3 linked regions of the Homo sapiens genome follow. The protein of the gene in region 1 purifies or fractionates together with the protein of each later gene. This does not show direct contact. Each region holds a gene or a part of one and is shown in the gene's direction. Other genes may lie near its edges.

Region 1 (5,626 bases):
GTTGCATACAAGAAGATGTATGTGAAAATATTCACAGTGGTATTATTTTTAGTAAAAGTTACAAAACCATATGTCCAATAGTATGATTTGTGATAATACTCAAAAGGGAGTTGGTCACATCTATAATTTTTAAATGTATACATTTTTAATGTAATTAATCTGAGTGTTTTGAATGTTCAGAGAAAGGAAGAAATTAAGGAAGTGAGAGCTAGAGAATGGGAAAGGATGCAGTCCAGAGTATAGGTAGAATTTGATAACGAAAAGGAGAGAAATCATCTTACAATTTTAAAAAAGGGATAAATATAGAAATGGTAATATATTGGCATAAAAATTAGCAAGCTATCACCACGAGTCAGGGTGGGAGGGAAGGAACTTGTAAATCGTCTCATAAAAATCAGTTAACTATTTTGCCTAAATGTCTGAGATTTAGACAGAAAGAGATACATTCAAGTAGATTTGGGAATGCATGTGGATTTTTTTTTTTTAATTTATGAAATGTTTCTTGGGTCAGTGACAGAATGACAGTATTTTTCTTCCAATCTGTGGAAGCCAAATATACTTAGTTGCACTAAATGTTAGCATTGCATTTGGCAACCTTGACAGCACTTTTCTGATGAATGGCGGTTATCTAGAGATGATAATCCCAATAGGAGGCAGAATGGCAAGGTCTAGATCAAACTATGAAGGGATAATGATAGCCAGCTGATACAGCTGCTGATTAAGATGTTTTTCTCCCTATCATCATACCATTTTTACTACTCTGAAAAGACAGGTCTAACAATCCTGGTTTGGTATTTATTTGTCTCTGGATTTTAAATTTGTTAAAATTATATATGGTTGTCTTTTGGTTCAGCTTGCTTTGGTTTGGGCTTTATGTTTTAAATGTTAACATCTGGCTGGGCACAGTGGCACTTACACCTGTAATTCCAGCACTCTGGTAGGTTGAGACACGACAATCACTTGAACCCGGAGGCAGAGGTTGCAGTGAGCCAAGATCGTGCCACTGCATTCCATCCTGGATGACAGAGCAAGACTCTGTCTCCAATTTAAAAAATAAATAAAAATAAAAATAAAAATTGGCCAGGCGTGGTGGCTCACGCCTGTAATCCCAACACTTTGGGAGCCGAGGCAGGTGGATCACTTGAGGTCAGGAGTTCGAGATCAGGCTGGCCAACATGGTGGAACCCTGTCTCTACTAAAAATACAAAAATTAGCCGGGCATGGTGGTGCACACCTGTAATCCCAGCTACTTGGGAGGCTGAGGCAAGGGAATCGTCCGAACCTGGGAGGCGGAGGTTGCAGTGAGCCGAGATCGCGCCACTGCACTCCAGCCTGATTGACACAGCGAGACTGTCTCAAAAAAAAAAAAGTTAATATCCAAGTCTTGTATGTACTTTTCTAAATTTTTATAAAGCCCATCTTAAACATTATTACTATGAGACTTTAGCTGGGAAACATGGAATTAAATTTTTTCCTAGTGTGGTAAAATTTTAATCAGTTAATTATTTTTAATTCAGAGGTTCTAAAAGCCACTGAAAATCATTACCACTTTATAGTTTTATCTAGGCCTTGCCATTTTGCCTTCTTTTTGGTAGTAGACAAGGTGAGCAACTCTATTAAAATATACAGGACAAGTTCATAAAAACATTTTAGGAATAATGAACGTTGCCTTTTCTCCCAATCTAGTCTTTACCACTTCTGTTAAGACAATTCTTTTTAAAGTTCACCTTTTAGTATATTCAAAATTTCTTCAAAACCTTTAGCAGTTCTCTACCAAGTAAGTTCAGAAGCCTTAGAGTTCTAAAACGCAAAATAATAAAATGAGAGAATGCTCATTTCCTGTTTCCGTAGCACAGAAGGCTATTTTGTTATAGGCAAATTTAGTTTTAAACAGTTATTATTTGTATTCTCTCATCTAAGCCCAATAATATAGGACCAAAGCTTTTAAGTGGAAAATTAGTTACAAATAAGTTTCTTTTTGCTGTAGACTTTAAAATGTAGATTAGCAAATACAGAGTTTTATCTCTTGTTCATGATAGTTCATGAACAGACCCAGTGAAAGGAAGTGCTGCCATGGTAACGTAAACCAGACTGTTACTTGAGACCATACTCAAGATACTTAACTGCCCTGAAACTGCACGTTTTCAATACCAGTTTTTCCAATTTGCTATTTCAAGGAAATAGCAACTCTACTGTGATCAAAACAATTTGCAGTCCCCTCACAATAGAATTTGAAAAGTAGACTTGAACTAAACAATTTCTAGGAGCGTAATCTCAGGAATTCCAAGGTAGAGCATGGCTAGCATTATTAAAATAATTGTCTTGGTCTGTGTATGAAAAGTAATGCTGCGTATCTTTTCTATATGAAACTGAATTGGCTTTGGGGCAAAAGATGTTGTAGGTGCTAACATTTTAATTCTTCCTTTTTTTTTTTTTGAGACAGCGTTTCACTCTGTCACCCAGGCTGGCCTCAGCCTCCTGAATAGCTGAGACTATAGGCGCGCACCACCACACCAGGCTAATTTTTTCTATTTTTGTAGAGACAGAGTTTTGCTATGTTGCTTAAGCTGCTCTTGAACTCCTGAGCACAAGCAATCACCTTCGCCGGCTTCCCAAAGTGCTAGGATTACAGACGTGAGCCACCGCACCTGGCCTGGTGCTAACATTTTTTTCCTTGTCATCAAAACACATTTATCATTTGGTCCAGGTGACTGAACATATAGCTAAGTTAAGAAGTTTCATTTAATCCAAAAATACATTTGTAAAACTTGTCTTTTATTGAAAAAAAAAAAAAAAAAAAGAAAATGTCAAATACTTTTTTAGTATAGTTAATGTGATATCTTGCTGCTAAACACCAGGAAAATGTTTCTCCTGATAATCCAGTGCATTTCTTTCTTTATGATAGTGTGATATGACAACCATGGTTTTTCTATTTATATAAATTGCCAGCATAGTAAAAAACTGCCTTACACTCAATTGCTACACCTTTTCACAGGCAAAAGGTTTTATTCTCTCCTAAATTAATTTTATCCCGTTTTTTTTTACCACCTAACTTTTGCCTTTTATTCAGAACTAATGTATTTTTTTCTTATTGTCGTTTTTTTTTCAAAATTCCCTCCTCGGTGGAAAGTAAAGGAGTAGGAACATACTATTATTCAACCAACATGCAGCAACCCTTACGTACGTCAGTTTCAGAATGGCCCCTTAATATTCACCTATTTTGCAGCTATGTCTCTTGCATATAAATCCTCTTATTTGAATCTCATTACAATTCAGTGAAGTGGCCTGCATTGTTGTTTTACTTTACGGGTAAAATGTAAATGAGAAGTCTGACTCTCAAAAATTAAATGATTTGCCCAATATCACATAGCCAGTCAATAAGTAGTGATCGGGACCTTGGTTTTTGAACCTATAGAACGGTGTTCTTTCATTTTGCCATTCTGCTATAAAAATTATGAAATGATATTCAGAGATAAAAGAGCGTCAATAATAGACTAGTAGTACCTTGAAAAAGAGTGTGGGAAATGGAAGGACTCTGGAGATCATCACATTAAATCTTAATAGCAATCATAATAGCTTATATCATAGAAGATTTGATACACGCAAAAAGGAGTATGAGAATGGGAAACAAGTAAATTTTGTTGTTATCTAAATAATTGTTAATGTAGTCGTAAAGGTAATTCAAATTTTAAGAAAGAGTTTTTGAAGTAGAAAAGGCATAATATAAAACCAGAAGCTAATAACATTTGAACCTCACTAATCTTGTGAATTAGAGGAAGTTTTGTACATCATAGGATGAATCCCTTTTAGTCACTACAGTGCACACATAGCAAGCTCACTTCAACCTTAGTTTCATACTCAAAAGGTGCTAGAGATTATTTACCCCTGCACATTTATTTAAAACATTTAGACGCTGACTGTTTATGTATAAAAGTTCCTAGTTATTCTTGTGCATTTTATTCTAGGTTAATGGAAAAGGTTCCTTATGGTGTGTTGATCCGGAATATAAACCCAATCTTATCCAGGCACTGAAGAAGCAACCTTTTTCTTCAGCATCTTCACAAAAGTAAGGATCTTCCATATAACTGTCAGTGGTGATTTATAGGATTTCACTGTGTGAGATGGAGAAACTTAAAGGTCCAGGGTATTATGTTTCTGTTTTATTGTATAAAGAAGTATTTATGTTTTATTTAGTTTTTAGTTTTTAGTTTTTGTTTTTGTTTTGTTTTGTGGACACAGTCTTACTCTGTCACCTAGGCTGGAGTGCAGTAGCGAGATCTCGGCTCACTGCAACCTCCCTCTCCTGGGTTCAGGTGATCCTCCCACCTCGGCCTCCCTAGTAGCTAGGACTACAGGCAAGCACCACCACTCCCAGCTAATCTTTGTCTTTTTAGTAGAGACACGGTTTCACCATGTTGGCCTGGGTGGTCTCTAACTCCTGACTTCAAGTGATCCTCCCACCTCTGCCTCCCAAAGTGCTGGGATTACAGGCGTGAGCCACCATCCTCGGCCTGTTTTTTCTTTTCTTTTCTTTTCTTTTCTTTTTTTAAGAAGTATTTATGGATAAGACATTAGCCTAAGTTAGTTTTCCTTATGGTCTAATTTGTGTTTCTAGAATACAGGAAATTGGTGACTTGAGAACATACACTCTGGGAAATATAGTCAATACTGAGTATAAGTAAACCCTAAAGAAAGTTGTAATATAATTTCAGTTACAAACAGGTCAGATCATTTTAATTGTCTGCAATACTAATGCTAACCTAAAAATGAAGGAAATTAAAAATACATTTAAAATTTTTTAACAAGATTATTAAGTTTGTCATTATAACATTTTATATACATATGTAGGTTTCTTTTTCTGTTTTAGGTTTTTTTCGTAGTACTTAATATTTGAAAAGTATGTTCAAGTCTAAAATTTTTAAATGTTTGGCAAATAAAATAATGCTTTGAACTTTGTTTTTATTTTTTCTGGTAAATATAGTTGTACTGTATTTGCTTATAATTTTCCTTGTCTTTGTTTTCAATCCCAGTAACCCCTGTTGATCTTCTAGCTTCCTCATTTTAAGTTAAATCGGAAAATAATATGACCTTCTTAAATCTGATTTTTGTTTCCTTTTTCTAAAGAAGACTTTAGAGTCTTCTCCAATTTATTATATACCTTCATTTGAATTGAAAATCCCAGATTTGGTTAAAATACTTTAAGGGTAGTTTATAATGGCTAACTTGTTTTTTGAAAAATTTAAAAAGATTTTTAATAAAGTAATAAATGGAAATTTTTAAACATGGAAAAAAGTAGAGAGAAAGTTATAATGAACTCCCAGCTGCAGCAATCATCAACGTTTCATATAGTGGTTAATTTGAATTCTTAAAGTATTGTTAGATAACTTGTAGAGGAGTGGTTGTAGCTGGAATACAGTAAATAGCTGGGAAGGCTAAAGTTGAAATATCAGTAATATATTCACTCACTGAGATTTTAAGCTTCTTTACCATATTATAGATTAGATGGATCATTATAAAAAGAATAACTGAGTGGTTTATCTTTATGAAATGAAACCTAGAAAAGAAGTTACCAGATTTTATATTCTTACTTGGAAATTGATATCTTTATTAATTAATTTTGGTTATT
Region 2 (4,563 bases), on another chromosome or scaffold:
TACCTAGCTTTGAAAACACTTTCTTCTAGGCAAGTAGTTGAGTCTGTTGGAAACCAGATGGGTGTTGGCAAAGAATCAGGTAAGTGCTAATAGTACTGTGCAAAGTATTTTCTTTGCTTTAGTTTATGTTTTCCCTTCAGAAACCTTTCCTCTTTTAATTTTCCCTTTTTTCTAACTAAACAGTAAGTTGGAAAGTTGATTGGAAGCAGTACAAATCAGAAGGTGTCCTTAATTAGTAGGTTATTATTTTCTCTGAACGTCTATCACTGAAAATTCATTTATACCAGGAATTAATTTTCTTCTAATAACTCCCAAGATATATCATTATTTATGTGCAAATATACCAGAATCCAAAATTCAAAACACTTCTGGTCCGAAGGTTTTGGATAAGGAGGGATACTCAATCTTTATTAGGAAAAATGACATTTTTGATACAAATAAAATTAGAGAAAGTTAGAATTGTTTTAACTGATTGGAATAAACGTGTAATAATGGTTGTTTTTGAAATTTTGTCTCTAGATATTTACATTGTTGCAAATGAAGAAGGACAACAATTTGCATTAAAGCTTCACAGACTAGGAAGAACCTCGTTTCGAAATTTGAAAAACAAACGCGATTATCATAAACATAGGCACAATGTGTCATGGCTATATTTATCTCGTCTCTCTGCCATGAAGGAATTTGCCTATATGAAGGTATTTATTTTATTTTGTAGTCATGCATTTTTTAGCCAAATAATACATGTGTCTCAAAGGCCTTAATGACAAGTGTGATTCTGTTGTCCCCACATCTCTCTAACCTTAGACTCAATTCCTACAGACAGACTCAATCTTAAATAACTCTGTTGATTATTTGGGCTCTTTTAAGTGATTTCCTTCTACGTTAAGGTATTTTAAATTGTTACTAATGCATAAGGGCAACACATTCTGTAATGCTGACAAGATGAAAGAGCCAAAAGTAATTAATGATGCTGTTACCTCACAAATATGTATGTGTGGATGTATATATATCTATTCAATATATGTAACTATACATATGTCTGTTTCTAATTGAAAACACCAGGTAATTATCATCTGTAGAAACCTTAGTGTCTCAGATAAGTTGGCTAGTTTTTTGTTTCACATAAAGGAACAAACATTTATAGATTTATATGTATATTAAAAATGGTAAAAATTGGCTGGGTGCAGTGGTTCATGCCTATAATACCAGCACTTTGGGAAGCCGAGGTGGGCGGATTACTTGAGGTAAGGAGCCCAGCCTGACCAACAAGGTGAAACCCCATCCCTACTAAAAATACAAGAATTAGCCGGGGATGGTGGTGGCCACCTGTAATCCCAGCTACTTGGGAGACTGAAGCAGGAAAATCACTTGAACCCAGGAAGCAGAGGTTGCAGTGAGTGAAGATTGTGCCACTGCACTCAAGCCTGGGCAACAGAGCAAGACTCTGTCTCAAAAAACAAAAATGGTAAAAATCTTTAGTTTTTAAGAGGTAAGGATGAAGAGAAGTGGGTTAAAGGATACAAACATACAATTAGAAGGAATACATTCAATGTTTGATAGCAGAGTAGGGTGACTATAGTAAACAAAATGTATTGTACTCAGGAGATGAACACACTAAATACCCTGACTTGATGACTTCTCATATATACTTAACAAAATGTTACATGTACCTCATACATTTATACAAATAGAAAAAAATGCTTAACCTGGCAGATGAAATGTCAAAATCTCAAAGACGGTTTTCTCAGGGTTAGGCCTATTCATTGCACTTCAGGTGTGCTGACCCCTGCAGTTTCCCCAAATATTGGAACTTGACTGCATATTTTGTGGCACTGGCGGACTACATTTATACTGTCCCCTGACATTAAAAAAAAAAATCCTTTATTTTTAACTTTGCCTTCAAAATTAAGTTCAGCATAGATTGTTAAATATAATAATATCCAAATTAAATATATCCAACAATAACTAAGTTAAACAAAAGATAATATTGTGTTTTTATAATCCTGCCAGTAGGATTTGTCATAGTTTATCTTCATTTTTCAAAACAATGTGAATTAAAGATTGCTACAGTGTGTGAACACCTGTTTCTTGAGGATTCAGCTTGTTCTTTGAGTGGGTTATATACTTAAATTTTCACTAATCATGGGAGATTTCTTAAGGCAGCATAAATTAGTAATACTGATACCATACATGTCAATGTACTTCTTATACTAATAGTTTGTATCTTGTAATATTCAGTCAGTAAATGAGCAGCTTGGTAGGGATCATTTACACATTTTCCCAAAAGGGTAGTAGGTGTTTTTCAGGATATTTATATTGAAGGTATAGGAATGGAATCTGGTTGCACATAAATGCACTCCTTAATGTATTGATTATTCATAAGAGAGGAACAAGAAGATAAAGATTGGGCTATAGCATGAGGTCTAGGCGATAGCACAAGTTCTAGACAAATATTCACAATCTTTAAGTTTATCACGTGCTATTGATCTGTCTAGGTATGCTCAAAATGGTCTACACTGAAAAAAAGTATTTAAAAACAAAGCAAAGAAAAATATCTGGGAAGTGGGAAGTGGTTTGGTTCTTGTTCACAGAAGGTAAGCAATAGACAACCTTTTGAAATTAATTGCTGGGGTAGTGTAGGGTGAAGGAGTGGATGCCAAAGAAATAACCAGTACGATCTGTGTCTTAAAGTTGAGAAGATAACACATGAAACAGAACCTTTTATTTATTTATTTATTTATTTATTTATTTTCAAGACAAGGTCTCACTCTGTCACCCAGGCTGGAGTGCAGTGGCACGATCACGGCTCACTGCAGCCCCTACCTCCTGGGCTCAAGCCATCCTCCCACCTCAGCCTCCCAAGTATCTAGGATCACAGGCATGTGCTACCATGCCTGCTTTGTAGAGACAGGACCTTGCTGTGTTGCCCAGGCTGCTCTCAAACCCCTGGCCTCAAGAGATTCACCCACCTCGGCCTCCCAAAGTACCGGGGTTATAAGCGTGAGCCACCACTGCAAGTCTAAGAACAATTTTTTTTTTAATTATATACTGAATTTAGAGAAACTTCAGTAAGTGATAGAATAGTTGATGGAGGAGGTTTCAGGTAGTGAGTGGAGCTGAGTGGAGCCATGAAGCTTGGATATTATTTGACCCTAAGACAGTGCATTTTGGCAGAGAAGTGGTATGGGCAATGACATGAATCTATGTGAGTCCTATGTGTTTAGGTGACACTGAGGTGACTGTCCTGACTGCGTTTCTTGGTGTGTATTGGAGAGAATATTGGGAGAACTAGGACTGTACAGGTGGATTAAAGAGTTTTGAAAACCAGGAAAAGTTTATATTTACAAACTGAAAAGAAAATTTACAGCCAATGTAAAAAAAAACTTTTTTTGAGGTGTAGTCTTGCTCTATCACCCAGGCTAGAATGCAGTGGCACGATATCAACTCACTGCAACCTCTGCCTCCCGGGTTCACGCGATTCTCCTGCCTCAGCCTCCCAGGTAGCTGGGACTACAGGCATGTGCCACCACGCCTGGCTAATTTTTTTGTATTTTTAGTAGAGATGGGGTTTCACCATGCTGGCAGGCTGGTGTCGAACTCCTGACCTCAACTGATCCACCCGCCTCGGCCTCCCAAATTGCTGGGGTTACAGACGTGAGACTCCATGCCCATCCCAATGTATATATTTTTAAATGGAATATTAACATCAGCAGGTTAGTCTGGTATTGGTACATAGAATAGGTTAGGTATGATGGCAAGAGCTAGAACACTTGTGGAGTAATGAGGTATATGCCTCCTTACAAGTATATGTTGGTGCAAAAGTAATTGCAGTTTTTGCCATTCCTAATACTAGCATTCTAAATGTCAAAGGGCATAAATCTAAGGTATTTTAAAGAAAGTAATAACAGGGCTTTGTAAACAGTAAGATTGAAGACAGTAAGCTTAGGGGAAAAGATGTATGGAGAGTCTTAACACTTGAATCAGACTACAACAGTGTATATTTTTCACATAATAGATTTATATTGCATATTGTGGCCTGGAGAAAAAGTTCAGTGCCCTATAAACCAAAATGTCTGATCTCTTAGAATGCCTCATTTCCTAATATGTCCGAAGATGAGTATTTCCTAAATTTGTTTCCAATTTAAATATTTTGAGCACATTTCAACAAATGTCAGAGACTTACAAAATAGGAAAGGATATACCCTAAGAGACTGTAAGCTTCTTGGGGGCTTTTTGACACTAATTTTAGAGTGTTTAGAAACTTTTTAACATTCATTTTTGTAACCCCAGCACAGTGCATAACATTTTGTAAATGTTCATTTTTTGTGGAAAAGTGAATTCAAACTTTTGTTTAAAATTTGCTTTTTATGTGTGGCTAATTCTACGCAGTGAATAAATAAGCTATGCATAAATAACCATGTGTTAACTACAATTTTATAAAGGTTTGTGTGTTTTTTTTCTGGTTGTAGAAAGGTATATTTACTTTTATTGTTCTTTAAAGAGTAATGACCTGTTCATTAGCTTACACCTGTTTTGCAACATTTTAGGCATTGTATGAGAGGA
Region 3 (4,563 bases), on another chromosome or scaffold:
ACAAGCTTCATTCTCTGTTTCAACTAAGAGTTCCCCAACAAAGTAACAGTAATAATAATAATGACACAAAACAACAAAGACTTTTTAAAAAAATTTTTGCCTGTACATATTGTTGACATGTATTTTATCTTTTTACATCGTGCCCTGAAACATTGTTTGCTTATGGAAAGATCCTTACCTCCCGTCCTTCTGGATAAGGAGGAGGGGGGCATCTGTGCTTTCTCCTGCTCTAGTTTAAAGACTTGAACTGACTCTAAAATAACCTTAGAAACGACAACTCACCTACTCTGACCAGAGAAGTAAGAGTTTATGGTAACCTCCCTAGGAAAAGAATTTAAGTTCTTGAATTACTAGGGCTTCTTCATCAACAGGCGTGGTACGGAAGGCAACTTATAATGTATGATGGGAAAGATCACTGTTCTGTGATTCTGTGACAGTTCAACGGACTTGGGTTGGGAATGAGTTCTGAAATAGTTTGCTCCTGCAGGAAAAGCAATACTGAAATATTTTAGTTTTTTAAGTTCTTTCTTATAAACCACTGAATCTGAGAAGAGAGAGACAGTTATTACCTCAATAACAGGACAAGTTCTTTGAAATCACTTGATCTTTGCTTTCTGCGTGAAGGGCACGCATTACCTTAATGTATGTGTGATGTATATTTAAATACAACAATATAATATAATGTGTATGTGATGTATATTTAAATGTAAATACTCATCTTTTAACATTGTTTATCATTGAAGTACTGCTAAGGATGGTTCTGTCCACCAGAAATGCAGGTGCTGGGGAATTGTTTATCTGGGTCTTATTCCTTAGATCTAATTGTTTAGTTTTACATTAGCATTATAATTAATAAAAATATTAAATTGGCTTAACTTTAATATTATAATCGAGTCAAAATTTTAAATGCACCTGTGGATTTTTTTTTTTTTTTTTTTTTTTTTTTTGAGACAGGGTCTCACTCTGTCACCCAGACTGGAGTGCAGTGGCAAGATCTCAGCTCACCTTAACATGCACCTCCCAGGCTCAAGGGATTCACCTGTCTCAGCCTCCTGAATAGCTGGGATTACAGGCATGCACCCCCACACCCGGCTAATTTTTGTATTTTTAGTAGGGATGGGGTTTCACTATGTTGGCCAGGCTAGTCTCAAACTCTTGACCTCAAATGATCCAACCGCCTTGGCCTCCCAAAGTGCTGGGATTACAGGCGTAAGCCACCAAACCCGGCCCCTGCACCTGTGGATTTTTGTTTGTTTGTTTGTTTGTTTGAGACAGAGTCTTGCTCTGTCTCCCAGGCTGGAGTGCAGTGGCACCATCTCGGCTCACTGCAAGCTCCACCCCCGAGGTTTACACCATTCTCCTGCCTCAGCCTCCCGAATAGCTGGGACTACAGGCGCCTGCCACCACGCCCGGCTAATTTTTCGTATTTTTTAGTAGAGACGGGGTTTCACTGTGTTAGCCAGGATGGTCTCGATCTCCTGACCATGTGATCCGCCCACCTTGGCCTCCCAAAGTGCTGGGATTATAGGCGTGAGCCACCGCGCCCGGCCGGCACCTGTGGATTTTTATAGTAGCTAGTGATTGTTTTGCTCATAAAATGCTGGGGCCAGAAGGAACCACATCTTATAATATATATTTGTTTCTAAAGTTGACATCTATTTATTAAATATTTAAATATTTTTAAAATATATATTGAAATATTAAAACATGTATATATAATATATACTTATATATTTAAATATAATAAAATTTAAATATAAATATATGTTAAATATAAAACAAATATATTTAAATATTTACAAACATTTAAACAGTATACCCCCATAGGTACCCACTTACTTGTAAAATAGGAAACTTTTGAAAAACCAAGGGAAGTTCTCATCTTGCTTGTCAGGACACTCACTAAACTGCAGGGGAGGAGAATGCGAGTCTGTGGGCCTGTCTCTGAAACTATGGGTCCAGGGCATTCCCACTAAACACAGCCGTATTTCTGAACTGAACTATATGAATATTCACCCGAAGTGGGGAAGAGAAGGACCATAAGTAACTTCATGTCAATTCAGGCCAGCTTTTGTCACCAAGTGAGTCCATGCCAAATTTACAAAAAAATTGCCAGTTTTCAGAGTTTCCTGGATTTCAGTATTGTTGTAAGGGGTTGTGGGCTTATGTATTTTTTAAAAAGATGTTTTGACTCCGTCTCTAGAATTTAAATGGCAATTAGCTCCTCTGCTGGTCATGTTCTCATGTTCTCTCATGTAGACATATGCCTGGTGTAGTGAAAGGTCTTATTTTGTTGGATGGATGGATGGATGGATGGATGGATGGATGGATGGGCAGGCCGATGGAATATACACTGGGAATTAGAGAAAAAACTGAAAACCACCTACTTGCTTCTTGGAAACTCTAAGATCAGCAAAAGGATTCTCCCAGGAAAAAAAATATAGGGGAAGACCCAGAATGAAGTGGGCGAAAGGGATAAGGGTAGGTGAAGGAGGAGTGGCAAAAGGTCCAGAGAGAGGCCCTAACAGGCCTATAGGGAACTGGAGCCTGGGAAGCTCTGGACTGGCTTAGGATTCTAAGCTCTTCTCTGCAGAAAACATCTATCCAGCTGCCTGCTGGGTACATCCAGGTGGATTCTGACAGGCACCTTAAACTTAAGGTGGCCAAGCTGAGCCTGTCATAGTCCCCCCAGATCTACTCCTCCCAAAGCACCCCCCAAACTCGTTGGTACATATCAACTCACTTCTTCCCATTACTCAGGCCAAACCTCAGGACTGTCCTTGACTCCTCTCTCCCAAGCCATCAGCAAATCCTGTTGACTCCACCTTCAGTAGTTCCCCAGAACCTGACCATGCCTCGCCACCTCCACTGCCAGCCCCTCTGGTCCCAGCCACCAGCATCTAGCCCGGATGATTCCACCACTGGTGCTCGGCAGTCTCTCAGCCCAGCAGCCAGACGGGGCCTGTTAACCCTGGGAGAGGCGGCGTCATGTTAAGTTCTACTTCATACCCCTCAGCTCGAAACCCTCCGATGGCTCCCATCTCATCTGCAGCAAAAGCCAAAGTCACCCCTAACTCCACTCCCCGCCAAGCCTAATACCTCTTTGACCTCATCGCCAAGCTAGATGCCTTCCCTCACTGCACTTCCACCCTGCTGGCCTCTGGAAGCTCATTCCAGCTCTGCCTGGAAAGCTCTTTGCCCAGGTATTTGGAGGGCTGGCTCTCCGACTTTCTTCAGGCCTTTTCTCAGATGTCACCAGGCCACCCACTTGAGAATGGGTGCTCTCAGCCTCCTTCCCTGCTTTCTCTGTCTCCTTAGCATTTATTCCTATATAACACACCATAAGTTATACGTATTTATTGTATTATCACTGTCCTCTTGTTAGAATGTCAGCTCAGTAAGGGCAGGAACTTCTGTTTTATTAACTTCTTTTTTTTTTTTTTTTGTGAGACGGAGTCTCACTCTGTCACCAGGCTGGAGTGTAGTGGTGCAATCTCGGCTCACTGCAACCTCTGACACCCAGGTTCAAGCAATTTTTCTGCCTCAGCCTCCTGAGTAGCTGGGATTACAGGCACGTGCCACAACGCTCAGCTAATTGTTGTATTTTTAGTAGAGACAGGGTTTCACCATGCTGGCCAAGATGGTCTCGATCTCCTGACCTCATGATCTGCCCACCTCGGCCTCCCAAAGTGCTGGGATTACAGGCATGAGCTGTTTTATTAACTTCTATATCCCCAGGGCTGAGAAGAATTTTGGTGCTGAGTAGGCAATTGAGAAATATTTGTGAAATGAATAAACAAATGGTTTCCTTGACACTTATGGGGAAAGCATATGTAGAAATGAAGAGTTGAGAGCTGCATTGGGTGTGGTGGCTCACACCTGCAATCTCAGCTACCTGGGAGGCTAGGGCAGGAGGATCGCTTGAACCCAGGAGTTTGAGACCAGCCTGGGCAACATAGCGACACCCTGCCCTTAAAAATTTTTTTTTTTTTTTTGAGATGGAGTCTCACTCTGTTGCCCAGGCTGGAGTGCAGTGGCACCATCTCAGCTCACTGCAAGCTCCACCTCCCAGGTTCAGGCCATTCTCCTGCCTCAGCCTCCCGAGTAGCTGGGACTACAGGCATCCACCACCACAACTGGCTAATTTTTTGTATTTTTAGTAGAGACGGGGTTTCACCGTGTTAGCCAGGATGGTCTCGATCTCCTGACCTCATGATCCGCCCACCTCAGCCTCCCAAAGTGCTGGGATTACAGGCGTGAACCACCGCACCCGGCCAAAAAAATTTTTTTTAAATTAAGAATTGCTCATAGGTACCTTAAGTTCATATTGCCATCTCTGAGTCAGTAGAGCCCAAATTGGATGAATCTGGATGAATGGGGCAGGGGAAAGAGGAAAGGAAAAGTTGCAGGTCATAGTGCTGGGTGTTGCAGACCAGGGCTTTGGGGCACAGCAGAGAAGGAGTTAAATTGTGGTGCCACCGTTTATTAGCTTAGTGGCTCTGGGGCAAGGTTTGACATCTGTGAAATCGATAATAATAGCTCGTGTGGTTGCTATATTAGAAA

Evidence for each region. The genes of interacting proteins can lie anywhere in the genome.
Region 2: the proteins of FOXN2 (region 1) and RIOK2 purify together in Homo sapiens (affinity purification with mass spectrometry; one large-scale study listed by BioGRID and IntAct). This does not show direct contact.
Region 3: the proteins of FOXN2 (region 1) and RFX2 purify together in Homo sapiens (affinity purification with mass spectrometry; 2 studies listed by BioGRID and IntAct, with this or other methods). This does not show direct contact.

What each region holds. Positions count from the first base shown.
Region 1 is NC_000002.12:48,355,082-48,360,707, forward strand, and holds part of FOXN2 (forkhead box protein N2), read left to right. Parts: intron 1-3,965; coding exon 3,966-4,066; intron 4,067-5,626. UniProt on the Homo sapiens protein: Binds to the purine-rich region in HTLV-I LTR.
Region 2 is NC_000005.10:97,173,248-97,177,810, reverse strand, and holds part of RIOK2 (serine/threonine-protein kinase RIO2), read left to right. Parts: coding exon 1-79; intron 80-519; coding exon 520-695; intron 696-2,495; exon of another isoform or gene 2,496-2,594; intron 2,595-4,547; coding exon 4,548-4,563. UniProt on the Homo sapiens protein: Serine/threonine-protein kinase involved in the final steps of cytoplasmic maturation of the 40S ribosomal subunit. Involved in export of the 40S pre-ribosome particles (pre-40S) from the nucleus to the cytoplasm.
Region 3 is NC_000019.10:6,104,001-6,108,563, reverse strand, and holds part of RFX2 (DNA-binding protein RFX2), read left to right. Parts: intron 1-4,563. UniProt on the Homo sapiens protein: Transcription factor that acts as a key regulator of spermatogenesis. Acts by regulating expression of genes required for the haploid phase during spermiogenesis, such as genes required for cilium assembly and function.